3 linked regions of the Homo sapiens genome follow. The protein of the gene in region 3 interacts with the protein of the main gene of each other region in a biochemical or structural test. Each region holds a gene or a part of one and is shown on either strand. Other genes may lie near its edges.

Evidence for each region.
Region 1: the proteins of GRB10 (region 3) and INSR form a complex in vitro, tested with the Homo sapiens proteins (5 studies listed by BioGRID and IntAct).
Region 2: the proteins of GRB10 (region 3) and RET form a complex in vitro, tested with the Homo sapiens proteins (2 studies listed by BioGRID).

The regions. Positions count from the first base shown.
Region 1 is NC_000019.10:7,283,600-7,291,666, forward strand, and holds part of INSR (insulin receptor isoform Long preproprotein), read right to left. Parts: intron 1-8,067. UniProt on the Homo sapiens protein: Receptor tyrosine kinase which mediates the pleiotropic actions of insulin.
Region 2 is NC_000010.11:43,071,977-43,080,883, reverse strand, and holds the start of RET (proto-oncogene tyrosine-protein kinase receptor Ret isoform a precursor), read right to left. Parts: upstream 3,816-8,907; 5' UTR 3,626-3,815; coding exon 3,553-3,625; intron 1-3,552. UniProt on the Homo sapiens protein: Receptor tyrosine-protein kinase involved in numerous cellular mechanisms including cell proliferation, neuronal navigation, cell migration, and cell differentiation in response to glia cell line-derived growth family factors (GDNF, NRTN, ARTN, PSPN and GDF15).
Region 3 is NC_000007.14:50,772,638-50,780,704, forward strand, and holds part of GRB10 (growth factor receptor-bound protein 10), read right to left. Parts: 5' UTR 7,990-8,067; intron 2,524-7,989; exon of another isoform or gene 1-2,523.

The DNA.
Region 1 (8,067 bases), on a different chromosome or scaffold from region 3:
CGGCTAATTTTTGTATTTTTAGTAGAGACGGGGTTTCACCATTTTGGCCAGGCTGGTCTCGAACTCACCACCTCAGGTGATCCACCTGCCTCGGCCTCCCAAAGTGCTGGGATTACGGGTATGAGCCACAGATTCACCAGTTTTAAACCACTTGCAGCCGATTCTTGTTATTGGTGGTAGTTTGGCTCTGTGAAATTCCCCTGAATGTTGAACTAGTGAATACTGAACCATTGTTCCTAGGAAAATGCGAGGGTAAGTACCTGCGAACTTCTGGCCACAACACATTTATCCATGGATCAATACCTAGCCTTGTTTTATGTGTGTTTCTGTTGAAAGACACTATTGAATCTATATTGTTGATTCATTAACACCGAACTCACGGCCAACAGTAATAGAACTCATGCCTGAACAAAGTTTATGTAACACATGCCTTTGTGTGTGTGTGTTGGTTTTGGAGTTTTTTTGTTTTTTTGGGTTTTTTTTGAGACAGGGTCTCACTCTGTTGCCCAGGCTGGAGTGCAGTGGCACCGCCTTGGCTCACTGCAACCTTCACCTCCTAGGCTCGAGCAATTCTTGTGCCTTAGCCTCCCAGGTAGCTGAGATTACAGGTGTGCGCCATCACGCCCAGCTAATTTTTGTATTTTTAGTAGAGATGGGGTTTCACCATGTTGCCCAGGCTGGTCTCAAACTCTGGCCTCAAGTGATCCACCTGCCTCAACCTCCCAAAGTGCTGGGATTGCAGATGTGAGCCACCGTGCCCCGCCACGCTGCCTTTTCTCCACAAGGGTGGTGACAGCCCTCCTTAGCCAAGGAAGAGTAGAGAGCAGGGCTTCAGCACCCTGGGGGGCATTTGAAACAGCCCCATCACCAACTGAAAGCACAAAAATGCTAAAAATGTGGCACCAAATAACCACAAAAAGGACTCAGGTTTTTTTGTTGTTGTTTTTTGTTTTGAGTCTCACCCTGTCACCCAGGCTGGAGTGCAGAGGCACAATCTCGGCTCACTGCAACCTCCACCTCCTGGGTCCAAGTGATTCTCCTGCCTCAGCCTCCGGAGTAGCTCGGACTACAGGCGCCCGCCACCACACCTGGCTAATTTTTTGTATTTTTAGTAGAGACAGGGTTTCACCATGTTAGCCAGGATGGTCTCGATCTCCTGACCTCGTGATCCACTCGCCTCGGACTCCCAAAGCGCTGGGCATGAGCCACTGCGCCTGCTCAAAAAGGACTAGTTTTAATCCTCAGTGTGCAGATTGTATGAATCTGACGCATAAGGGCTGAAGCAAGAAGGTGGAATGCCCTCTTACTTGACCTCACATTTGAGACTCGTACTTATGAGTGTCCTAAAATGACCAGAAAGGCACTGAGCATGCTGGTTTGAGGGTTACAAATACATTTGAGTGAGTAGGTGAATTCAAAAATACAGGGTCTGGGGCCAGGTGCAGTGGCTCATGCCTGTAATCCCAGTACTTTAGGAAGTCAAGATGGGAGGATCACTTGAGGCCAGGAGTTCGAGACCAGCCTGGGCAACATAGCGAGCCCTTATCCCTGCTGAAAAGTTAAAAATTAGGCCGGGCACAGTGGCTCGCGCCTGTAATCCCAGCACTTTGGGAGGCTGAAGTGGGCGGATCACTTGAAGCCAGGAGTTTGAGACCAGCCTGACCAACATGGTAAAACCCCATCTCTACTAAAAATAAAAAAAACTAGCCGGGCATGGTGGCGTGCCTGTAACCCCAGCTACTAGAAAGGCTGAGGCAGGAGAGTTGCTTGAGCCCAGGAAGCAGAGGTTGCAGTGAACCCAGATCACACCACTGCAGTCTGGCCTGGGCAACAGAGTTAGTGAGACTCCGTCTCAAAAATAAATAAATAAATAAATAACAATAAAAACTAGCTGAGCATGGTGGTGTGTGCCTGTAGTCCCAGCTACTCAGGAGGCTGAGGCAGGAGGATCGTTGATGCTCAAGAGTTGGAGGCTGCAGGGAATTAGGACCACACCACTGCACTCCAGCCTGGGTATCAGAGCAAGAACCTGCCTCTCAAAATAAAAATTTAAATTTTAAATTTTAAAAAGAAAATATGGGATCTGGGAATGATGAGGATCAACCAGACTCAAATTTAAAATTTCAACTTTAGGAATATTAATCCAATTATAAGATAAAATCTTTTAAAGTCTAGAGAAAACTATAGGGATGGAGAACAGATCTGTGGTTAGGGGTGGAGGTGGTTTAGTGATAAAGGGGTGAATTGAGGGAGTTTGGACAACAACGAGACTGTTCTCTATCCTAATTGTGGCAATAGCCATACAACTCTACACATGGCTTAAAAATCATAAAATGGTACACCTTTAAAAAGCCAATTTTACTGTATGATAATGTTTAAAATATTTTGTTGTTGTTGTTGTTACACAGTCTCACTATGTCACCCAGGCTGGATGCAGTGGTGCAATCACAGCTCACTGGCGCCTCGACTTCCCAGGCTCAGGTGATCCTCCCACCTCAGCCTCCCTAGTAGCTGGGACCACAGGTGCTCACCACTGTATCTGGATAATTTTTTTGTAGGGTTTTGTAGAGACGGGGTCTTGCTATGTTACCCAGGCTGGTCTTGAACTCCTGGGCTCAAGAGATCCACCTGCTTCGGCCTCCCAAAGTGCTGGGATTACAGGAGTGGCCCCATGACACCTAGCCTAAAAAATTACTAAACATCAAAAAGATACATAAACCAATGGCACAGTTACCTCCCTGGACATGAATGGAATGCTTTTGGGGACAGGGGGACAAGATTTTTTTTTATTATTTCTTTTCTTTTTGAGACAGGGTCGGGCTCTATCACCCAGGTTGGAGTGCAGTGGCATGAATATGGCTTACTGTAGCCTCAACCTTCTGGGCTCAAGCGATCCTCCCACCTCAGCCTCCTGAGTAGCTGGGACTACCGGTACACACCACCATGCTCAGCTAATTTTTAAACTTTTTCTAGAGATAATGTCTCATTATGTTGCCCAGGCTGGTCTCAAACTGCTGGCTTCAAGTGTTCCTCCCACCTCAGCTTCCTAAAAAGTCCAGGGATTACAGGTGTGAGCCACTGCACCCCACCACAAGATTTTGCAGAAGGACTTCTGTGTTTTTTTTTTCCTTTCTACACTTTTGTAATTTTTCTTTTTGCAATGAGAATGCATTACCCGTCACTATTTAATTAAAAACTGTAAATACCATGCAGCTGCAAAATATCAACCAGGCCACCCCAAGAAGTATTCTTTTTTTGTTTGAGACAGAGAGAGGATCTCACTGTTGCCCAGGCTGGAGTGCAGTGGTACAATCACAGCTCACTGCAGCCTTGCCCTTCCAGCCTCAAGAGGTCCTCCCATCTCAGCCTCCCAAGTAGCTGGGACTACAGACACATGCCACCATGCCCAGCTAATTTTTGTTTTATTGTTAGTGGAGACAGGGTCTTGCTGTGTTGTCCAGGCTGATCTGAAACTCCTGGACACATGTAATCCTCCCACCTCAGCCTCCCAGAGTGCTGGGATTGCAGGCATGAGCCACTGCACCTGGCCAAAAATATTCTTTTTTTTTTTTTTTTTTGAGATGGAGTTTCGCTCTGTCACCCAGGCTAGAGTGCAGTGGCGCAATCTCGGCTCACTGCAACCTCCACCTCCCAGGTTCAAGCGATTCTCCTGCCTCAGCCTCCCAACTAGCTGGGATTACAGGCATGCGCCACCACGCCTGGCTAATTTTGTATTTTTTCAGTAAAGATGGGGTTTCACCATGTTGGTCAGGCTGGTCTCGAACTCCTGACCTCAAGTGATCCACCCACCTCGGCCTCCCAAAGTGCTTGGGATTACAGGCGTGAGCCACCACACCTGGCCCAGAAGTATTCTTAACAGAAATTAACACAAGAGAGGCCTGAGAGAAAAAAAAAAAATCTCATTATATACACCAGTTATATTTTGGGTTCTAGATACAGGGTTGAGAGCATGAAATCCTCATTCAATGCCAATATAGCTGTTTAAATAAATACACATGGCTAAGTAGGCAACATCACGGTGATTTTTCTCATCCTTGGAATCCGTATATTCAGTGCAGCAAATGACACACGTTTCTTTAACATCTCTTGCGGTGTAAAGAGAAAGACATAGCGTTTCATTTCACTCACTTCATTCGAGTTGTACCAGGGACTGCACAAGCTATTAGGCATGCTATCATGAATGAAACCTCAAGGCGTCTGTTCCAGATCAGAGGTCAGCAAACGCTGTTCTGTAAAGGGCCAAAGTGTAAATATTTTGGCCATGGAATTCCTGTTTTAACTACTCAACCTGCCGTGTCGGGGCATTTTTGCGCAGTCATAGATGATGAGTAGACAAATGAGTGTGGTTGCATGCCAATAAAACTGCATTTACAAAAACCGTGGGATTTGGCCTGAGGGCCATAGTTTGCTGACCCCTGTTCAGATGAAGAAGTCGGAATCTATGTAAATTTCTTAGCTGGGCGCAATGGTTCCTCATGCCTATAATCCCAGCACTTGGGAGGCCCAGGAGGGAAGACTGCTTGAACTAGGAGTTCAAGACCAGCCTAGGCAACATAGCAAGACCCTGTTTCTACAAAAAAAAAAAAAAAGTTTTAATTAGCCAGGCATGGTGGTGACTGTCTGTGAGCCCAGGTACCCAGGAGGCGGAGGCAAGCAGGTTGCTTGAGGCCAGGAATTCAAGACCAGCATGGGCAACATAGCTAGACTCTGTCTCTACAAATAAATTTTAAAAATTAGCTAGTCATGGTGGTGCCTGCCTGTGATCCTAGTTTCTCAGAAGGCCAAGGCAGGAGGCTCACTTGAGGCCAGGAAATCAAGACCAGCCTGGGCAACATAGTGAGACTCTGTCTCTACAAACAAATTTTTCAATTAGCTGGGCATGGTGGCACCTGCCTGTGATTCCAGCTACTTGGGGAACCTAGGTGGGAGGACTGCTCCAGGCCATGACTTGGAGGCTGCAGTAAGCTAGGACTAAACCTCTGCACTCCAGCCTGGGTGACAGAGCAAAATCCTGTCTCTAAAAAGAAATAAAAATTGGAAAAAAAAAAAAAAAAAAAAAGGGCCGGACACGGTGGCTCATGCCCGTAATCCCAGCACTCTGGGAGGCTGAGGTAGGTGGATCTCTTGAGGTCAGGAGTTTGGGACCAGCCTGGCCAATGGGGTGAAACTCTGTCTCTACTAAAAGTACAAAAACTAGCCAGGCGGGGTGGCACATGCCTGTAATTCCAGCTACTGGAGAGGCTGAGGCAGGACCATTGCTTGAACCCAGGAGACGGAGGTTGTAGTGAGCCAAGATCATGCCATTGCACACCAGCCCGGGTGAAGAAGTGAAAAAAAAAAAAAAAAAAAAGTGAGCTGAGAGAAGATTAAAGGAAACACTGACCCTCTGGGAAGAGAGAGCCAACATCTTAGCCCAGGTAGAAGGAGAAGAGAACAGTAAAACAGAAGAACTTAGGCACAGGTGAGACGGGAGACACAGCCTTCCAGGAGGGGGGACTGGCAATGTCAAACCCAGAGGGGTCAAGTGAGGTGAGGCTGCAGGAGACGCAACTGGGAGATGAGAGATTAACTTCGAGAGCCATCGGTAAAGCAGCGGAGATGCAAGCCAGATGCTGGGGGCAGAACAGTGAGAAAAGAGTGAGATGGAAAGGGCAGGGAGGACTGGCCTGGGGAAGCTGGACAGGGTGGAGGCTGGAGGTCAGTGGTAGGTAATGGGGATTGGGGGGTACTGGGTGTTTAGAGGCTGAAAAAGCACGTGGGTAAATGAAGATTCTTTTTTCTTTTCTTTTTTTTTTTTTTTTTTGAGACAGAGTCTCTCTCTGTTGCCCAGGCTAGAATGCAATGGTGTGATCTCGGCTCACTGCAAGCTCTGCCTCCCAGGTTCAAGCGATTCTCCTGCCTCAGCCTCCCAAGTAGCTAGGATTACAAGGACCCGCCACCACACCTGGCTAATTTTTGCATTTTTAGTAGAGATGGGGTTTCACCATGTTGGCCAGGGTGGTCTCAAACTCCTGACCTCAGGGGATCCGCCCACCTCAGCCTCCCAAGGTGTTGGGATTACAGGCGTGAGCCACTGCACCCGGCCGAGGATTATTGAACAAAGAGAGGAGAAAGAGCAAGAGCCCAGATGGGTAAATGTCTCAGACAGGGAAAAGGTTAACTCCTGCAGAGACGTGCCTGGCAATGTCTGGAGACATTAGTGGTTGTCATGCCTGGGGGGAAGGGGATCCTCCCAGGACCACATGGGTGGAGACCATGGTTCCAGCTCAACACTCTACATACAGGACAGCCCCCACCACCAGGAATGATCCAGCCCCAAATGTCAGCAGTGCCAAGATTGAGAGTTCTGCTTAAACCAAAGAGGAATGGAAGTCAAGGGTAGAGTGGGGTGAGGTGGGGAGCCCTGGGGACTCAGCCCACACCCTGTGGTCTCTATGCATGAATGGGGAAGGGCAAGAAGCAGGTCTCCAGGAGAGAAGCAAAGAATAAGAATAACTGCAGAGGCCAGACACCGTGGCTCATGCCTGTGATCCCAGCACTTCGGGAGGCCAAGGCAGGCAGATCGCTTGAGGCCAGGAGTTTGAGACCAGCCTGGACAAAATAGCAAGACTTCAGCTCTACACATTAAAGTAAAAATTAGCCAGGCAGGGTGGCGTGTGCCTGTGGTCCCAGCTACTACGGAGGCTAAAATAGGAGGATGGCTTGCGTCCAGGAGGTCGAGGCTGCAGTGAGCCATCATTGCCCAACTGCACTCCAGCCTAAGCAACAGAGCAAGACCTCATCTCAAAAAATAATAGATAGCTAGAGAGATAGATACAAAAATCACACTGATTTTCCTCCACCCTTCATCCCAATCAAAATGCCATATTGGGCCCGGAGTGATGGCTCACACCTATAATCCCAGGTCTTTGGAAGGCCGAGGCAGGCAGATCACTTGAGGTCAGAAGTTTGAGACCAGCCTAACCAATATGGCGAAATCCCATCTCTACTAAAAATACAAAAATTAGCCAAGGGTGGTGATACACGACTGTAATCCCAGCTACTCAGGAGGCTGAGGCAGGAGATGCACTTGAACCTGAAAGGCGGAGGTCGCAAAGATCGTGTCACTGCACTCCAGCCCGGGTGACAGAGTGACACCCTGTCTCAAAAAAAAAAAAGAAAAAAAAAAAGGCCAGGTACGGTGGCTCACTCCTGTAATCCCAACACTTTGGGAGGCCGAGGCGGGTGGATCACAAGATCAGGAGGTCGAGACCATCCTGGCTAACACAGCAAAGCCCTGTCTCTACTAAAAATACAAAAAATAAGCCGGTGTTGTGGAACACGCCTGTAATCCCAGCTACTGGGGAGGCTGAGGCAGGAGAATCCCTTGAACCTGGGAGGTGGAGGTTGCAGTGAGCTGAGATCGTGCCACTGCACTCCAGCCTGGGTGACAGAGCAAGACTCCGTCTCAAAAAAAAAAAAGCCATATTGGTTGACATTAGAGATTAATGATCTGAAAAGTTCTTTGCCCCTCCCCAAGCCTTCAAGAGGCATCACAGCCCATTTATTTGACAGGATTTTGTTCACCATCACCCCAATCGTGGGGGGTACGGAGGCTCGGACTCAAAAGAACAAAGATTTGTTAAGAAACCATTGCTCTGCAGCCACACTAGCTAGATTGCAATCCCAGCCCTGCTGCCTGCTGGCCTCAAGCGAAGTTTTCTCACTTGTGAAAAGGGAAGATTAAACCGCACCTCGTGGGGTTTTGCCGTGAGGATTAACTGAGATTATATATGCAAAGCGCATAGAACAGCACCTGCTGAGAGCTTGCTCTTCTAATTCTTAGGAAGGTATTATGCAGAGAATAAGGAACTCCTTAAGATGATAAAGGAGCCCAGTACACCCAGGAACTCCACCACTTGTGCCCCACTGCAGAACAAATATTTACTGAACACCTACTATGTGCCAGGCATCGTTCTGGGCTCTAGAAATGCAACGGTGAACAACAACAAACCATAAACCCCTGCCCATATGGAAGCCATAAATGTGCAAAGAAATGGTAAATCC
Region 2 (8,907 bases), on a different chromosome or scaffold from region 3:
GGTGTCCCAGCCGAACATCTGCACCGCCACTGGCAGCAAGATGCCTTCCTGCCATCCACAGAGCACACACAGTCGGCCCTTCTGCTGGCACAGCCATGCCTGGTGCTCCTCCCCAGACCCATAGGACTCCCAGACATCAACTAAAGCTGACGAGACCCAGAGAGTATCTCAGCGTCTGTGCATGGTGCCACACATTACTCTGGGATCTGGGCTGGGATGTCCTGAGGGCACCTGGAGCCCGAGGTGGGGGGACTCACCAGTGGGTGGGCAGGCTCAGGGCAACCTCCCTGGAAGCCCTCCTTAGCCCCACCCTGGACCCACACCACTGGCCCAGAGAACGGGCTGGAGCAAGCCAGAGGGCCAGGGCTGGGGAGCTCCCGCATCCTCTCTACCGGTTCGAGTCCATAGGCTATGAGAACCTGTTTCCTCACCTGTGAAATGGGCCAAGACCATGACCCTTGCAGACTTGTTGGAAAAGATGAAGTGAGTAGGCACAGCACAGGGGCAGTGCACTGTGAGCCCCCATGGGGTGCTACTGCTGGTATTAGCCTTATCCAGTTAAGACGAGGGGACCTAGAGGGTCTTCGGCCAGGCTGCAGAGGGGGAAGGTCTCAGGGGAGATGGCAGCTTCCGGGCCTTCCCTTCCCCTTGGCACCCCAGGTTCCATTTTAACAGATATCATAATTTTTAATTGGTTTTCTCCTCCACTGGCTAAAAGGCTATTAGCTCCCCGCTAGGTGATCGCATCCCATTTTCTTCACACCACCAAGGAAACAGTGATTTCCTCAGCCTGTCCCTAAAGTGATTCTGCAGAAGAAAGGCAATTTAGTGAATCAGCTCAATGCACTTCCCCATTTGCTCTCTGCTTGCAGGCCCCCAGCAGGCACAGCCCACCAGTGAGGGCTGCAGGCAGCTTCTGGAGGCCAGACAGGGTTAGTGAGCTGGAGTGGAGGAGGAAGCAAGCCAGGCCCAGGTGAACCTGGTGAAGCCTCTGGCCAGAGAAAGGGGAGAAGGAAAAGGATGAAGCAGGGGGAGCTGTACCCCTGGCCTGAGCTGCCCGCGCTGATACCTGGTGCTTCAGGCAGGGGTGGGCTGCCTAGGCCCTCTGCAGAGGGTGGTCTGGCAGCTTGGATCCGGGCCCTGCCAAGTCACAGTGCCCAGCTCTTCCATGCTGGGAACAGAAGGCCCCGGGGCCCAGGGGCAGAGAGGGAATGTCCTTCCTTGCTGCAAAACAGGACCCAAGAAGTCAGGCCAGGAAGACAAGAGACAAGAGGCTTGCTGAGGAGCTGTGGGAGGTTGAGGTGCAGGGTCAGCCTGGGACCTGGGGGGAACCCCAGAAGCTGAGACTCAGTTTCCTCATCCAAGCAACGGGGACAGCTGTATCTGTGTTGAGCAATGAAATGCCAGAAACCTTTAAGAGCAACTTTTAAATGAATGTAACTTTTAGATGGAGGTTCTCTCACTCTGGTTCCAGCATACCTGGGGCTGACAGGCTATGCCCTGCAGGTATGAGGAGTGTGTGTCCCTATATACACACGTGGCGTCCCTGTGTGTATGAGTGATGAGAGGGGCTGGGGTCCCTGTGTGGACGTGGGTGAGGCAGGGTGTGAAGGAACCACGCTGTGCATGTCCACAGCCTTGGCAGCAAGTGCTGTGAGAAGGGGCAGGAGTGTGTCTTGGTGATCCAGTGTGAGTGTGCATGTGTGAGCTGTGGAAGAACCCTCATCCTCTAGAGACCCAGTCTGTGCCTGTCATCAGGCCCAGCCACTAAAGTGCAGCGTCCGCAAGAGGGCGCTTGAGGCCGAGCTGTCCCCTTGGGGTGGTTGGGGAGCACCGAGGGGCTCACTGGGGCGGTCCTTGGCAGCTCCAAGAGTGCGGCTCGAACCTCCGGAGCTGTGGCTCCTGGGAAAGAGCTCTGCAGCCTCTTCAAAGGCCCCAGCTGTCTACTCCAGGGAGTGGGGCTGCCTCTTCACTCCCAGTGCCTCCAACTGTGGTGTCCGGGTTATCCCAGGGGCTAGGGGCTCACCATCTCTGGATTCGGGAAGCTGTCTGTGGGCCAGGGGTCTGGGCACGGAAAGCTACCTGCATGCCTGCTGAGTGCCACAAGCCGGCCCCCAGAGCCTGGCCCCCACAGCCTCACTGGCCACCCCAACTGAACGCAAGGCTGTGGAAGGGTGTGGGGAAGTCCTCTGCCCAGCACACCAGCAGCAGTTCACACCTGGCCCCCTGCCCACAACCTCAAAGCCAAAGCCACAGCCCAGAATCCCAAGACAGCGTCAGAGCGCCTTGTTTGCTTCTGCCCCGTGTCTTCCCCCTGCAGCACTGGGACCCCAAAGTCCTAACACTCAGAAAAGATAGAAAGGCAAGGGCTTCTCCCCTGTCCCTCGCTAGGTGGACTGGGGACCCGCTCTGGCCTCAGCATATGCTGAGCTGAGGCGCAGGTCACACAAATGAAGTCTCAGGCAGGCCTGGAAACTCAGTTTGTGCAGGGCCTGGGGCCAGAGACAGGGTGACTGACCATGGCTTCTTCTGTTCCCAAAGGCTGTGGGGAGAGAAAGCCCTTTGTAAGGAGTGAGGGAGGATGGCCAGGGCTCCTTCCCTCTTAGAGGGAAACTTGGTTCATACACAAGCGCTTGGAGGGGATCAAGTCAGGGCCAGTTTGAGGGACACTTAAACGCGTGCCAAGGGGTCAAAGATTCCACAGCCTTGCGGCTCACTCTGCCAGAGTTTGGGTGGGGTCGATGACCATCTTTGCAAGGCCACACCTAATGCTGGGATCCTAAGGCACCTGAGGTTTCACCAGGCCCAGCACCAACGCTGGCTGGCGGCGCAAACCCCTGCCCCACCCCAAGCCCTGGGCCTCCTATGGCCGCATCTTCAGCATCTCTGCCAGGCAGCGCCACACGACTCCAGGGCTGCCGGGTGGGACGCCTATCACGGCGGCCCCTCGGGGGGAGCCACCCCAGAAACCACGGTTTTTAGGTGTTTAAAGACAGGGCGGCAAAAACGCACGAGGGAAAAGCAATCTTTTCAAAAGAGCCTCCGAATCCCTCGGCTGGCCAGGACGGCAGAGCTGGGGGAGGAACGCACGGACGCTGAGCGGGAAAAGGAAACCAGGACGGAGCCGTCTCCTGCCGAAACAGAACTCTCCGCACGAATCGCGGGCTTTCGGGGCTCCCTGACCCGTCCGCCAGGTCGGCCCCGAAACGGCTGTCCCGTTTGCTCCAGGACGCGGCTTTGGCGCAGGGCGCGGCCAGATTGAGACCTGCGGCTATGGCTAGGGTTCTGAGCACCGACCCCCGCGGCCCGGCCCGCGCTCCGCTCCCGCCCGAGACCCGCCCAGCCCCGGCCCGAGGCGCCCGGCCCGAGGCGTCCTGCCCTTCGCCCGCCGCCCGCCGCAGCCACTGCGCTCCCAGCCGAGGCCGGGTGGCCGGCGACCGCACAGCCCGCTGCCCACGGCAAACAGAAAGGCGCTTCTGAACGCGCCCGCTCCGCTGCTCGGCGCCAACTTCGCCCTGGCCCCTGCGGGAGCCGGCGGCCGGCAGAACTCACCTTTGCCTAGCAGCGGCAGCAGCAGCAGCAACAGCAGACGCAGCCCCGCGGCACCGGACGTCGCCTTCGCCATCGCCCGTGCGCGCTGGGGCCACGGCTGGAGGGACTGCGGCTAGGGCCGGCGGGTCTGGATGGCGGGTGCGGCGCTCAGTCTGGCCGCCCCATCCCCGCCCGGGGCGCGGCGGACGCGACGGACACTGGGGGCGCGACGCACGTTCCGGGGCACTCAGCGCTGCTGCGCGCCCTGCTTCGGTCGCGGGACTGAAGCGAGGTAAGCGCCGGCTGCGCCGGAGGAGCGGGTAGGGGCGGGGCGGGGCGGGGGCGGTCCAGGGGTGGGCCAGGCGGGGCCGGAGGCGGGTGGGGTGCGGGAAGGGGCGGGGCTCCAGTGCTTGCTCTGGCTGCGCGGGGTGCGGCCGGGGCGCGGCGCGTGTAGGAGCTCAGTGCGGGACGCGCGGCTTGGGCCGGGTGGGGCTTGGGGAGGAGCGGGGTGCGGGAGCGGGGTGCGGCCGAAAAGGGCCCGGCAGGAGCCGGGTGCGGACCCCGAGGTGCGCGGCGGGGATGGAACCCAGGAGCCCGGGTCCGCGCACCTACGCAGAGCCGCTCTTCCTACCCGGTGCGCGCCCGCTTGCAGTCCCTGCCTTTTGCCCTTTCCGCTGCACAGAGAGGGCAGGGATGCTACGCGGGATGCAGGTCTGGCCGACTGGCTCGGGGTGCGACCCCGCGGACTCAGAGAAGGGCGCCCCGCCTCCAGGCTCTCCGCGGAGCGCTTGCTGCGCCATTTCTCAGAGGCGAGAGGCGCAGTGGGAGCGCGGCCTCTGCTGGGGCCGGAGGCAGGAGGCGGGGAAGAGCTGAGCAGGGGAAGAGAGGCAGAATAGCCTTTTTCAGCATCCTGGGGTAGTAGAGAGGGTAGGGTCCTGGAAGGGCAGTTTGTGATTCCCCCCTCCAGCACTGGTCCAACCCTTGGAAACCGGAAACTGGCTCCGGCGTCCTTTCAGAGACCTGGTGCTGGTGGCCCTTGCATCCCTTACACAGGAGAACTCTCAGGAGATGGGCTGGCAGAGTCGGAGAGCGAGTAGCGAGGAGGAGGAAAGAATCCAATTTTCCCCCAAAGAAATGATGGAAATGATGCGCATAAACACATTTACCCCTAATAGGGAGCAGCAACTGGACCTGAGAAGGGGTTCTGGGTGAGGTTGGATGTGGGCTCAGTGGGGAAGTCCTCTGTTCTCGCCCCATCCCCGGCTGCTTTTTGAGGTCTGGCCTGCACTTAGGCGCAGAGGGATGGAAGAAGGGAAGCCCATGGGCCCTTGAGGAGGAAAAGCCAGGGAACCTGGGCCCAGGGCACCCTTGAGCCAGCCGCTCCCTTGCTTGCTGTGTGCAGAACCCCGCCCTCTTGCCTGGCTGAGCTCAGGGCTGAATAAGTGATCTGCACATCACTGCAGATATGAAGTCAAAGTGAAGTCACCCTCACAGGCAGGAGGGGGAGCTGCCAAGACAGAGGCTGGCTTGCACTCAGCCAACCGTGATGTCCAGACCTGGCTTGCTGAGGGGCAGGTGGCCGGGGCACAGGCCTGCCAGCCCAGGAGAGACACTGTGGGCCACTGGACTCCGGCTGCCTGCCACACCCTTCCAGTTTATGGAGCTAGAGTTGGCCACAAGGGGCTCCCTTGGGTTCAGACAGGTTCCATCTCTGGTGCCAGTGGCTACCTAGGCTACACACTCAGGCCTGTGCCCAGGGAAGGGACCTGATAGGTAGGGAGGGGCTGGGGGCATCTTTTGGCTACAGACAAGCTCCTGTGATTGCCTCCTAGGTGAATGAAGAGAGAAGTGGGTAGGCTTAAATAGCCCCACCCCTGCACCTCCCGGGGACCACCCTGGCCAGCCCTTGGCTGACATTGATGTCTGGCTGGGCTCTGTGTGGCCATCTTAAGGGGCCATCTGGGGCTGTGCTCCTGCCTAGCCTACCTTAGGCCTTTCCACGCTCTCGCTCCACCCTCACCCTTGGGGGTCCTGAGTGAACACCTGACACTATGAGAGGGTGTCATTTACTCCTTGGAAAAAGGTCTGGGGGGCCCTCACATGGGTGTACCCTGTACACATGCATACATGCATACACCTGTGTTCCCATACGTGGACACACACGCACACAGATGCATACCTCCCTGCTACGTGCACGCCCAGGGATCTGACCAAAGGGTCGCTCAGCAGAGGACAGTTGTGAGGCCCAGAGCCTGCTGGCCTCAGGGACTGCGGGGAAAGGAGATTCAGCCCTGCCTGGGTGTAGGCTCAGTATCCAGAACATCAGGCAGCAGGAAGGAGCTCCTTGCCCAGCAGAGGGGAAGCGAGGCCACCCCCTGAGGTCTCACAAGGGGAGGTGGGGGCCAGGTGAAGTGCAAAGCAGACGTGCCGGTCTTTGGCTGCCCAGGAGTCCTGGCCCTGGCTTCTCTCAGTCCATGGGGTGGGGAGGGCCTGCAGGGGGCTCTGCCTCTCTTTCTTGACTCCCCTTAGTCATCTCTCTGAGCCTCAGTTTCCCCAGCTATAAACATCTCCCTTTCAGAAGAAGGGGTGAAACTAGAAAGAGGGGTGCATGTGAGGGTAGAGCCCAGTGCCCGACAAACAGGAAGCCCTTAATAAGTTGTAGCCATTGGGCCTTCCTGGGCCTGGGCTCGGGCACCCTGGCCACACTGCCCTGCTGAGGGTCGCGGGCTCTCTGGGAGCTGGAGGAGGGCACATCACAGTGTGGTCAGTGCTTCCTGTCCCTGCCCGCAGGTCCCCTTGGAGAATCTTCAGGGCAGCTTTTATGAAGACACACATCCTGGGTCCCCCACTCCCTAAAAATCCATGTTAAAAAAAAAGTTCAGGGGCCAGGCTAAGGGCTCACACCTGTAATCCCAGTACTTTGGGAGGCCAAGGCAAGAAGATCACTTGAGGCCAGGAGTTCGAGACCAGCCTGGGCAGCACAGTGAGACGCTATCTCTAAGAAAAAAAAAAAAATTCCCCAAGAGGTTCTGGTGCAGGCATCTGCTTGGAGTGATTAGACCTGAGTTTGAATTTTGCCATTCATAGTTGTGTGACATTGCATACATTACTCCTCAGCTTCAGTTTTGTCATCTCTCAAATGGGGACTGAAACAGTGTCCTTCCCTGGTGACTGTGAGGAGATGGTATTTTCAAGGCTCTGCCCCAGTGCAGGGTAAGATGCTCAGTGGGCAGGCGGCTCACACCATCTTCCTGTAGCATGTGAGAACTTGGAGGTCATTCATTGCTTCTGAGCAGGTGAAGATTACCTGGAGCACCTCAGGTCTGACCCCAAAGCACCAAAACGCAGCACAGGGAAGGGAGGGAGGAGGGAAACCCATCATGGACAGAGATCTGGGCCATGCCTGTGCAGGTTTGCCTGGCGGGAGGCGGGCGGGATGCTCTGTGTCCTCTGACCCAGGTGACATGGGGGTCTCTGCCTGCACTGAGAAGCATGGTTGGAGTGAGGCTGAGTGCAGTGACAGGAAACTCTGGCTCTGGGGGTGCCTCGTGACTTGCAGGTAGGGGGAAACACATTCAAGAGCGCAGCTCGGTCCTGGTGATACTGGAAGGCTGGGTGGCATTCCTGGAACTGCTGACCGAGGCCTCTCAGAGTGGGCGTGGGCAGGGGTCCAGGTCCCTCCCATGGGCAGTGTGACATGGTGGTTGGAAGCACAGACTCTGAGGCTGGCTGTGTGCACTGTTAGCAAAGTGGTCGGTGCCTCAGTTTCCCATCTGTCTGCCACTGCCCTCTGCTCCCCCATCGGGCTATTGAGGTGAGGGGCAGGTCTACTGCTCCCCACGGTTTGCCTCCCTGGCCTTGCTGTTGGTGCCCTCCAGGGCAGCTGCGAGGAGGAAGCCAGTGACCACCAGCTAGCTCTCAGGGCACTCAGAGGGGCTGCTCAGCCAGCCCACCCTATGCCAAATATGCTGCTTCCATGAGCATGCTCACAGAACACCTGGCCTGGGCCTGCAGGGTGTGGCTGTGCAGGACAGGCTTTACCTAACTGTGCAGGTCCTGCCTGCCTGTGGGCCTCAGGTGCCCTCAGGGGTGTTTGCAGAAGAGCCCTCAACCTGGCCTGGGAGAAGACCCCTTTTGCATCCTCCCTGGGGCCTGATTAGGAGCCGGGTGCCCGAACAAAAGCAACAGGGGCCTACATATCCATCAGAGACCCTGGGGGGTTCAGAGAAAGCCCACCTCCTCCCACCAGCCTGCCCACCTACTCCCACTAACCTATCATTATCACTTTGCCCACTTCAGTTTTCCATGTCCCCACACTTTGTTCTCTTGTGAATTTCCTTCCCTCGCCCTCCTTTCTTCTTTCCCCTCTGCCCGTCTTCTCCTCCCCTTCCCTTGGAGGAATCTCCATCCTTTTCGCTCAGCACCAGAGCCAGGCTAGCCACACCACTCAGCAGCTTCTGTGGTCCTCTCTGGGCCTCGGTGTCATCCTCTGTGACATGAGAGCAATAACATGGGCACTGCCTTGAGGGTAAAGCCCAATGATGCATCAGTGGGCTCAGCAGACAGTGGCAGTGTTTCCTGCCCCTCTGCCAGGGTTTTCTCTCCTACAGGGGGCTGTCTAGGTGTGGCCTGGGGCAGTAGCATGGTGGGAAGGCTGCAGGGGGCTCTGAGTGTGTCTGCGCTCTGTCTCTTGTCCCCATGTCCTTGGCGGGTTACCCAGAGTCTCCGTGCCTCAGTGGGAAGGCAGAGCTCCTTCTCCCCAAGTTCCCCGGGGATGCAGACAGTCAGTCTGCACAGAGTCCTTAGCCCAGGGACGCTGGCCATCAGCACGAGCTGCCGCTGTCATCAGCCTCTGTCCTGTCAGCTGTAGGAGCTGAGGCCATGAGGCCCAAGCAGTCACTGGATGGTGCTAGGGTGGCATAGAAAGCCAGGGGGCCCTGGACCCAAACAGTCCGGGCTTCCCACCTGCACAGGTGACAGCACGCACCTGTGTGCTGTGTGGGGCTGGTGGTCAACGAGACTGGCTTGCTAGAGCACACACCTGTCTTCTGCATCCTGGCTTGGCCACAGGCTTTGAGCCCTCCCCATGCAACCAGAAGCCTTCTCAGTGCTGGAGGGACCTGGGTCCCCAGAGTCCTATTTGCCGCAGAGGACCACTTATCTGACCTTGAATTACACATTCGGGAGTGGTGGGTTGATTAATGTCTGCGGCCACCCAGGCTCCTGGGGGATTGGCTCACATAAGGCAGCCCCAGCCCGAGGGGCTCAGAGGCCGGCTGGTCTGTGGACAGGACCTCAGGCCTGCCGGTGCCTTGCTTGGTGCATCCTCTGGAGAAGGCATCCTGGCTCCAAGCAACGTGGAGAGTGGAAGCTCGA
Region 3 (8,067 bases):
TATCTGTTAAACTCTTAGAAGAAAACATATGCAAAAATCTTTATATGGACATTGGATTTGACAATGACTACTCAGATATGACACCAACAGCACAGGCAACAAAAGAATAAAATAAATGAACTTCATCAAAAATTAAAAATTTTTGTGCGTCATAGGACACTACGAAGACAGTGAAAAGACAGCCTGCAGAAAAGGACAAAACAGTTGCGTATCACATAACTGATAAGAGTATTAATATCTAGAATATATAAATTCCTACAACTGAGTAACAAAAAGCAAATCAAAACCACAATGAGCAATCATCTGATGCCTTGTATTAGTCCGTTTTCATGCTGCTGATAAAGACATATCAGAGAACTGGGCAATTTACAAAAGAAAGAAGTTTAATGGACTCATATTTCCACGTGGCTGAGGAGGCCTCAAAATCATGACAGAAGGTGAAAGGCATGTCTCACATGGTGGCAGACAAGAGAAGAGAACTTGTGCAGAGAAACTCCCCTTTATAAAACCATCAGATCTCATGAGACTTATTCACTATCACTAGAATAGCATGGGAAAGACCCAACCCCGTGATTCAATTACCTCCCACCAGGTCCCTCCCATAGCATGTGGAAATTATGGGAGCTACAATTCAAGATGAGATTTGGGACACAGCCAAACGATGTAACACCTATTAGGACAGCTATAAGGAAAGAAAGGGGAAGGGGAAGGGGAAGAAAGGCAAGGGAAGAGGAAGCGGAATGGGAAGGGAAGGGGAAGGGAAGGGGAAGGGGAAGGGGACGGGGAAGGGAAGGGGAAGGGGAGAAAGGGGAAGGGAGGGGAGGGGAAGGCAGGGGAGGGGAAGGCAGGGGAGGGGAGGGGAGGGGAGGGGAGAGGAGAGGAGAGGAGAGGACAGGAAACGAAAAATGCCAAGTGTTGGCAAGAATGTGGAGAAACTGAAACCCTTGTGCATTATTATTGGGAATGTAAAATGGTGCAGCTGCTCTAGAAAACAGTTTGGCAGTTCCTCAAAAAGCTAAGCATAGAATTACCATATAATGAAGCAATTATAATCTAGACATATATACAAAAACATGGAAAGCAAGTACTCAAAGATAGTTATACACCAATGTTTACAGAAGCATTATTCACAATACCCAAAAGGTAGAAACATAAATGTCCATCAACAGTTGAATAAACAAAAAGTAGTATATACATACAAGGGAATTTATTTGTTTGTTTATTTATTTATTTATTTTGAGACGAAGTCTCGCTCTATCACCCAGGCTGGAGTGCAGTGGCGTGATCTCAGCTCACTGCAAGCTCCGCCTCCCGGGTTCATGCCATTCTCCTGCCTCAACCTCCCAAGCAGCTGGGACTACACATACAAGGGAATATTATTCAGCCATAAAAAGGAATGAAGTACTAATGCATGCTACAACATAGATTAACCATGAAAACATTATGCTAAGTGAAAGAAGACACTCACAAAAACCACAGACGATTCTATTCACATGAAATGTCCTGGACAGGGAAATCTATGCAGACAGAAAGTAGAGTTCCTTAGGGTTGGGAAAGCAGGGGGAGCAATGGGATGGCAGGGAGTGGGGGTATGATAGCTAAAGGGTGCAGGGTCTCTTTTTGTTCTAAAATTGACTATGGTGGCGGTTGCACATAGCTGTGAATATATTAATTGAACACTATATACAATGTATGTGTGTGTGTTTATTCATTTCTGCAGTTATAACAAAATACTTGAGACTGGATAACTTATAAAGAACAAAATCTATTTCTCACAGTTCTAGAAGCTGGGAAGTTCAAGATCAAGATGCCAGCACTTGGTGTCTGGTGAGGGCCTTCTTGCTGTGCCCTCACATGGCAGAATGCAGAAGTGCAAAAAGGGGATCCTAGCTAGTTCTCTCCAGCCCTTTGATGGGGGCAAGAATCCATTCATGGGACTGGAGCCCTCATGACCTTATCACTTCCCAAAAGCCATACCTCTTAATAGAGTTGCGTTGGGGAAGTGATAAGGCCATAAGGAGACACAAACATTCAAACCATGGCATTCCACCCCAAGTCCCCCAAATTTATGTCTTTCTCACATACAAAATACATTCATTCCATCCCAATAGCCCCAATGTCTTATCTCAGGCCAGGATCAATTCAAAAGTCTGAAGTCTAAAATTTCATCTAAATCAGACATGTGAGACTCAAAGATGTGTTTCAACCTGAGGCAAAGTACTTCAGACTTCAGCAGTGGCTCACTCCTGTAATCTCAGCACTGTCGGAGGTTGAGGCGGCCGGACTTCTTGAGCCCAGGAGGTCGAGACCAGCCTGGGCAACATGGCAAAACCCCATCTCTAATACCAAAAACAAAACAAAACAAAAAAAAAAACTAGCTGGGCGTGATGGCACACGCCTGTAGTCCCAGCTACTCAGCAGGCTGAAGTGGGAAGATAGCTTGAGCCCAGGAGGCAGAGGTTGCAGTGAGCCGAGATCACACCACTGTACTCCAGCCTGAATGACACAGTGAGATCCTGTCTCCAAAAAAAAAAAACAAAAAAAAACAGTGGAACAGACAAAGAACAGACATTCCCATTACAAAAGGGAGAAATAGGAAAGAAAAAAGAGGTAACATTTCCCAACCAAATCCAAAACCAAACAGGACAAACATTAAATCAATGGTAAGGCTGGAGAATAAATCTTTGGTTCCATGTCCTGCCTTCCAGACACAATGGGGCAGGAGTTGGGTTCCCAAGGACCTGGGCAGCCCTGCAGCCAACTGCTGGGCACAGCCCTCATAGCAGCTCTCACAGGTTGCAGTTGGGTACCTGCAGCTCTCCCAGGCTGGCACTACACACGGGTAACTCTACAGTTACAGGCTCTCGAGGGCAGCCCCACCCCCACAGCTCCATTAGGCATTGTCCTTGTGGGAGCTCGCTAGTGTGCCCCCAGCCTCAAGACTCTGCTGGACATTGCCCTAGTGGGGGCTCTTTTTGGCACTCCTGCCCCATGGCTCTATTAGGCATTATCCTAGCAGGGAGTCTCTGCAGCAGACCTATCCTGCAGCAATTCTCTGTCTGAGCCCAAGACTCTCTGAGGCATCCTTTCAAATCTAGGTGAAGGTAGCCATGCATCCACAGCTCTTGCACTCTGCATACTTGCAGACTTAGCGCCATGTGGATGCCACCTAGGCTTATGCCCTGTGCCTTCCACAGCAATGGAACTAGCTGCACTTGAGCCCCCTTGAGCTACAGCTGGGATATCCAAGGAGGGCTGCACTGTAATGCAGAGAGCAGAGAAGTGATGCCAGGCAGTGAATGCTGAGGTCCTGCAGACGCCCAAGGCCTCTCCTTTGACATAAGTTCTGTTCCCTGGGCCTTGGTACTCTGGGCCTCTGATGGGAGGGGCAGCACTGATAATCTCTGAAATGCCTTCAGGATCATTCTTCCATTATCTTGATGAATAGCATCTGGCTTCCTTCTATCCATACTAATCTCCTTATCAAAAGGTCACTTGGCCACACCCTTAGTGTTTTCTCCCAAACATGTTTTTACAACCTGGGCAAGCTAAAAATTTTCCATATCCTTAAATTCTGCTTCCTTTTCTTTTTTGGAAACAGGGTCTCATTCTGTCACGCAGGCTAGAGCGCAGCAGCAGAATCATGGCTCACTGTAGCCTTGACCTCCCAGACTCAAGTGATCTTCCCACTTCAGTCCCCTTGAGTAGCTGGGGCTAAGTGCACACCACCACACTCCGCTAATTTTTTTTTTTTTTTACTTTTAGTAGAGATAAGGTCTCATTATATTGCCCAGGCTGGTCTTGAACTCCTGAGCTTAAGCAATCCTCTCACCTTGGCCTCTCAAAGTGCTGGGATTACAGGCATGAGCCATAGTGCCCAGCCTCTGCTTCCCTTTGGATTATAAATTCCATTTTCAATTCATTTCTCTCACATTTTACTGTAAGCAATTAAGAGAAGTCATGCAGCATACTGAATACTATGCTCACGGATTTCTTCCACCAAATATCCTAGGTTGTCACTCTTAAATTCTGCCTTCCCCAAAGCCCTAGAGTATGGGCACAATTCAGCCAAGTTCTTTGCGCCTTTGTAGCAAGGACTGTCTTTCCTCCAGTTTCCAATAAGATATTCATTTCCATATACGACCACAGCAGAACGGGCTTTACTGTCTATAATACTACCAGCATTCTGATCACAGCCACTTAGAAGTTTCTAAGAAGACACTGGTTATCTCTACGGCTCTCCTCTTCTTCTGGGCCCTCACCAGAATCATTCTTAATGCTCTGTTCACAGAAATTTAGGCTTTTTCTAGCAAACACTTCCAAACTGTTCCATCCTCTACCCATTACCCAATTCCACTTTTCTTTTAAGTATTTGCTATAACAACACCCACTCTCAGTATCAATTTCTGTCTGTGCTGCTATAACAAAATCCACAGGTTAGGTAATTTATAAATAATAGAAATTTACTTCTCATGGTTCTGGAAGAGAGGAAGTCCAAGATCAAGGCACTGGGGTTCAGTGTCTGGTGAGGGCCTCTCTCTGCTTCCAAGATGGTGCCTTGTTGCCACACCCTCCAGAGGGGAACAAATGCTGTATCCTCATATGGTGGAAGAGCAGAAGAGAGCAAACCCATTCCCCCTCAGGCCCTTTTAAAAGGGCCCTAATCCCATCTATGTCCACTCTTATGACTTAAACACCTCCTAAAGGCCCCACCTCTTAATAACATCACGTTGGCCATTAGGTTTCAACACATGAATTTTGGGTGATACATTCAGACCACAGCAATCTGTATACACACACACACACACACACACACACACACCATTGCACATATCTGTAAATATACTAATTATAATTGAATTATATACTTCAAATTTAAATGAGTAAATTGTATGGTATGTGAATTATACCTCAATACAGCTTTTTTTTTTAAGAGAGGACTGTATGAAAAAACTAGCCCATAAAGATACATGCACACCTATGTTTATTGCAGCACTACTTACAAAAGCAAAGACATGGAACCAACCCAAATGCCCATTAATGATAGACTGGATAAAGAAAATGTGGTACATATACACCGTGGAATACTATGCAGCCACAAAAAGGAATGAGATCATGTCCTTTGCAGGGACATGGATGAAGCTGGAAGCCATCATCCTCAACAAACTAACACAGGAACAGAAAACCAAACACTGCATGTTCTCACTCATAAGTGGGAGCTAAACAATGAGAGCACATGGACACAGGGAGGGGAATAACACACACCAGGGCCTGTCAGGGAGGGGAGAGGGACTGAGGGGAGGGAAAACATCAGGACAAATAGTTAATGCTTGGGGGGCTTAAAATCTAGATGACAGGTTGATAGATGTAGCAAACCACCATGGTACACGTATACCTATGTAGCAAACCTGCACGTTCTACACATGTATCCCGGAACTAAAGAAAGAAAAAACTAGCCTAATGAAATAATCAGCACAAGAGGGGTTCTAACTCCACCCCGACCCCCCAAAATTTGGAACCACCATAGTCTAGCCATCTTCCTCTTAAAGTGTCATAATACATTGTGGCACACAAAATTTTCTGAAATGTTGTGCCATAAAGAAACCAACTTTATCTAATCCAAAGTTTCCTCACTTATTTGGCAATAAATTATTAGCTCCTGTAGTATCTAAAACCTTCAGGAAGCATTAAGTTGCCCAACATCACCACCAGCCTAGGAAGACTGTTAATGAAAGATGACAAAGGAATGGGTCCAAAGTCCCATGGAGCCCATCAATGCATTTACTGATCAACTAGGGCAGGCACAAATACAAACATTCAAAAATGTCTTTGCTATCCAAGGAAGAACTTTGGTGGTAGAATTTTTCAAAAGGTGGCATTAAGTAGAGGTGATCCACACAGTGGAGCCTTATACACAGAACAGACTCACAGTGCAAGCAAGACAAAAGCTGCTTTAATACCACCTACCCTGACAGGGAAATAATGGGACAACCCAACCCTACCTCCAAGGGTAGGGTCGGGCTAACGCTGACAGAAACAGGCAAGGGCCCCAGCCAGAAGCCCCACTGGGACATCTTTATTGCTTCTTTCTATGGCTTGGAGGCCTTCCAGGTTCCAGGCTGTGATGCTGAGACATGAAGGCACTGAGCAAGGACCTTGGAAGAAGTGGGGTGTTAGCATGCACAAGCTCAAAGCAGATACAATTCCTACATTCTTAAAAGAAGGCAGGTGGGGCTTCCAAATCCGCTCAAGATTCAAAAGGTTTCAAACCTTTCTAAAAGTGTTCTATCATCATAAACAAAAGAGAAACCACTAAATAAAATCCACAGGAATCCAAACAAATGTCAAAGCAGGACACTGTACAAATATTTGCCCCTGGAATAAAGTATGGACACATTTAAGAATGTCATTTACAACAATGTAGGGCTAATCACTAGAAAATTCTTGGTACAAAAATTCTTAGATTAAGTAATAGCATTATTAATAATAGTTCTTACCAGGTAAAGTGTCCTCTTCAGAGAATTTCTAGAGAAAAAGACACTAAAGTGAACACAGGGGGAAATGCATTAAGACCTTACTGCACAAAGTGTGGGCCACTGACCAACTGCAAGCATAACACCTGGGAGCTGGTCAGAAACCCAAAACCTCAGGTCCCAACCAAGACCAACTAAATTAGAAGCTGCATTTTATTATCAGCCCCAGGAGATTCCCATGCATATTAAAGTTTAAGTTGTGGTATTTTCAGACATTGTTAATATTTAACTTGTATCAGAACTGAAACGTGCCAGCTCCCTTTAAGAAAATAAATAAGCAAAATATATTAACATCACTATTTTATTGTTCAGTCAACACAGGCCATCCCTCTACTCACCCTCCCTTCCTACACAGATTTCATTATTTTCCATCTAAGTAAGGCAGGAACAGATGACGGAGACAGACTGGCTCCTCAAACACCTGTTGAGTGAATGACAGGCGGGGTCCCTTGTCAAAAGCCACCCAGAGCACTCCTTGCCATTCTCATCCCACTTGAGTGCTGAACAACTGCTCAGAATTACACAGCCATTGTTGGCAACGGCACATCACCAGTCTCAAGCCACCAGGACTACCTTGACAACACTCAGAAGCTGGCTCCCAGACACTGCACAGGAAAGGAAAAAAATTATTTGTAGGTGACTTACAGGTACCATTTACACATTTAGAATTTTCTTCCCTCACTAATATGAGATTTGAGCCTGAGGCATCTAGAGTTCAGCCCAGACTCTTCCAGCTGCCTTCAGGCAAGTCTCCACAGACCAGAAATGCCCCTGGAGAGATAGTCCTGGACCCCCTGACCGAGGAGGCAGAGAAAAAAAGGGAAGAAAGAAGCAAACGGGGCCAATAAATGCCTACTGGCCCCCCAATCCTAGTCACAGCTCAGCATTTTCTGGCCCCTTTAATTTAACCTCTGCCGGCCGTGAGAGGAACAAAGCCCATTCCACATGAAAACAGAAGAAATGTGTCTCCTGAACAAATCAGAATAAACCGTCATGGAAAGGGTTCCAGGGTTTGGGATGGGTTAGGACTTTGTGGATCATGCCCAGCCAGTGAATTCTGTGAAATATGAGAAAATATGGTCCATCACACCAGTTCTGCACGTGATGCATGGCCATGCCCACTACCAGATGTGCCAAGTTATTTAATCTGACAGAAGCAAAAGGCCCACATAAAGGCCTCTTTTGACATGTGCTCCCAGACCTCCTAGGGTCCACAGGACTCATACTGCCTCAAGGCCTCCCCTCATTCTGCCCTTGACCCTTCAGACAGGAGCTGCTAACTTTCTAACTGAATCACCAGAAGCCCCAGTAGTTACAAGGCCCAGAACACCACATCAGTTCTCAGACTTTATACTTGTAAGAATCACCTGGCATGCTTTACAAAGACAAAGAATTCCAGGTCCCAAGCCCAGAAAGTCAGTTTCGTAGCTCAGAGCTGGGGCCTGGGGATACATACCGAGAGGCAGTCAGCTCTGATGTAGGTGGTTCAGAGGTCACACCTTAAAAACCCTGGTCTCTCCTATACATTCTTCCT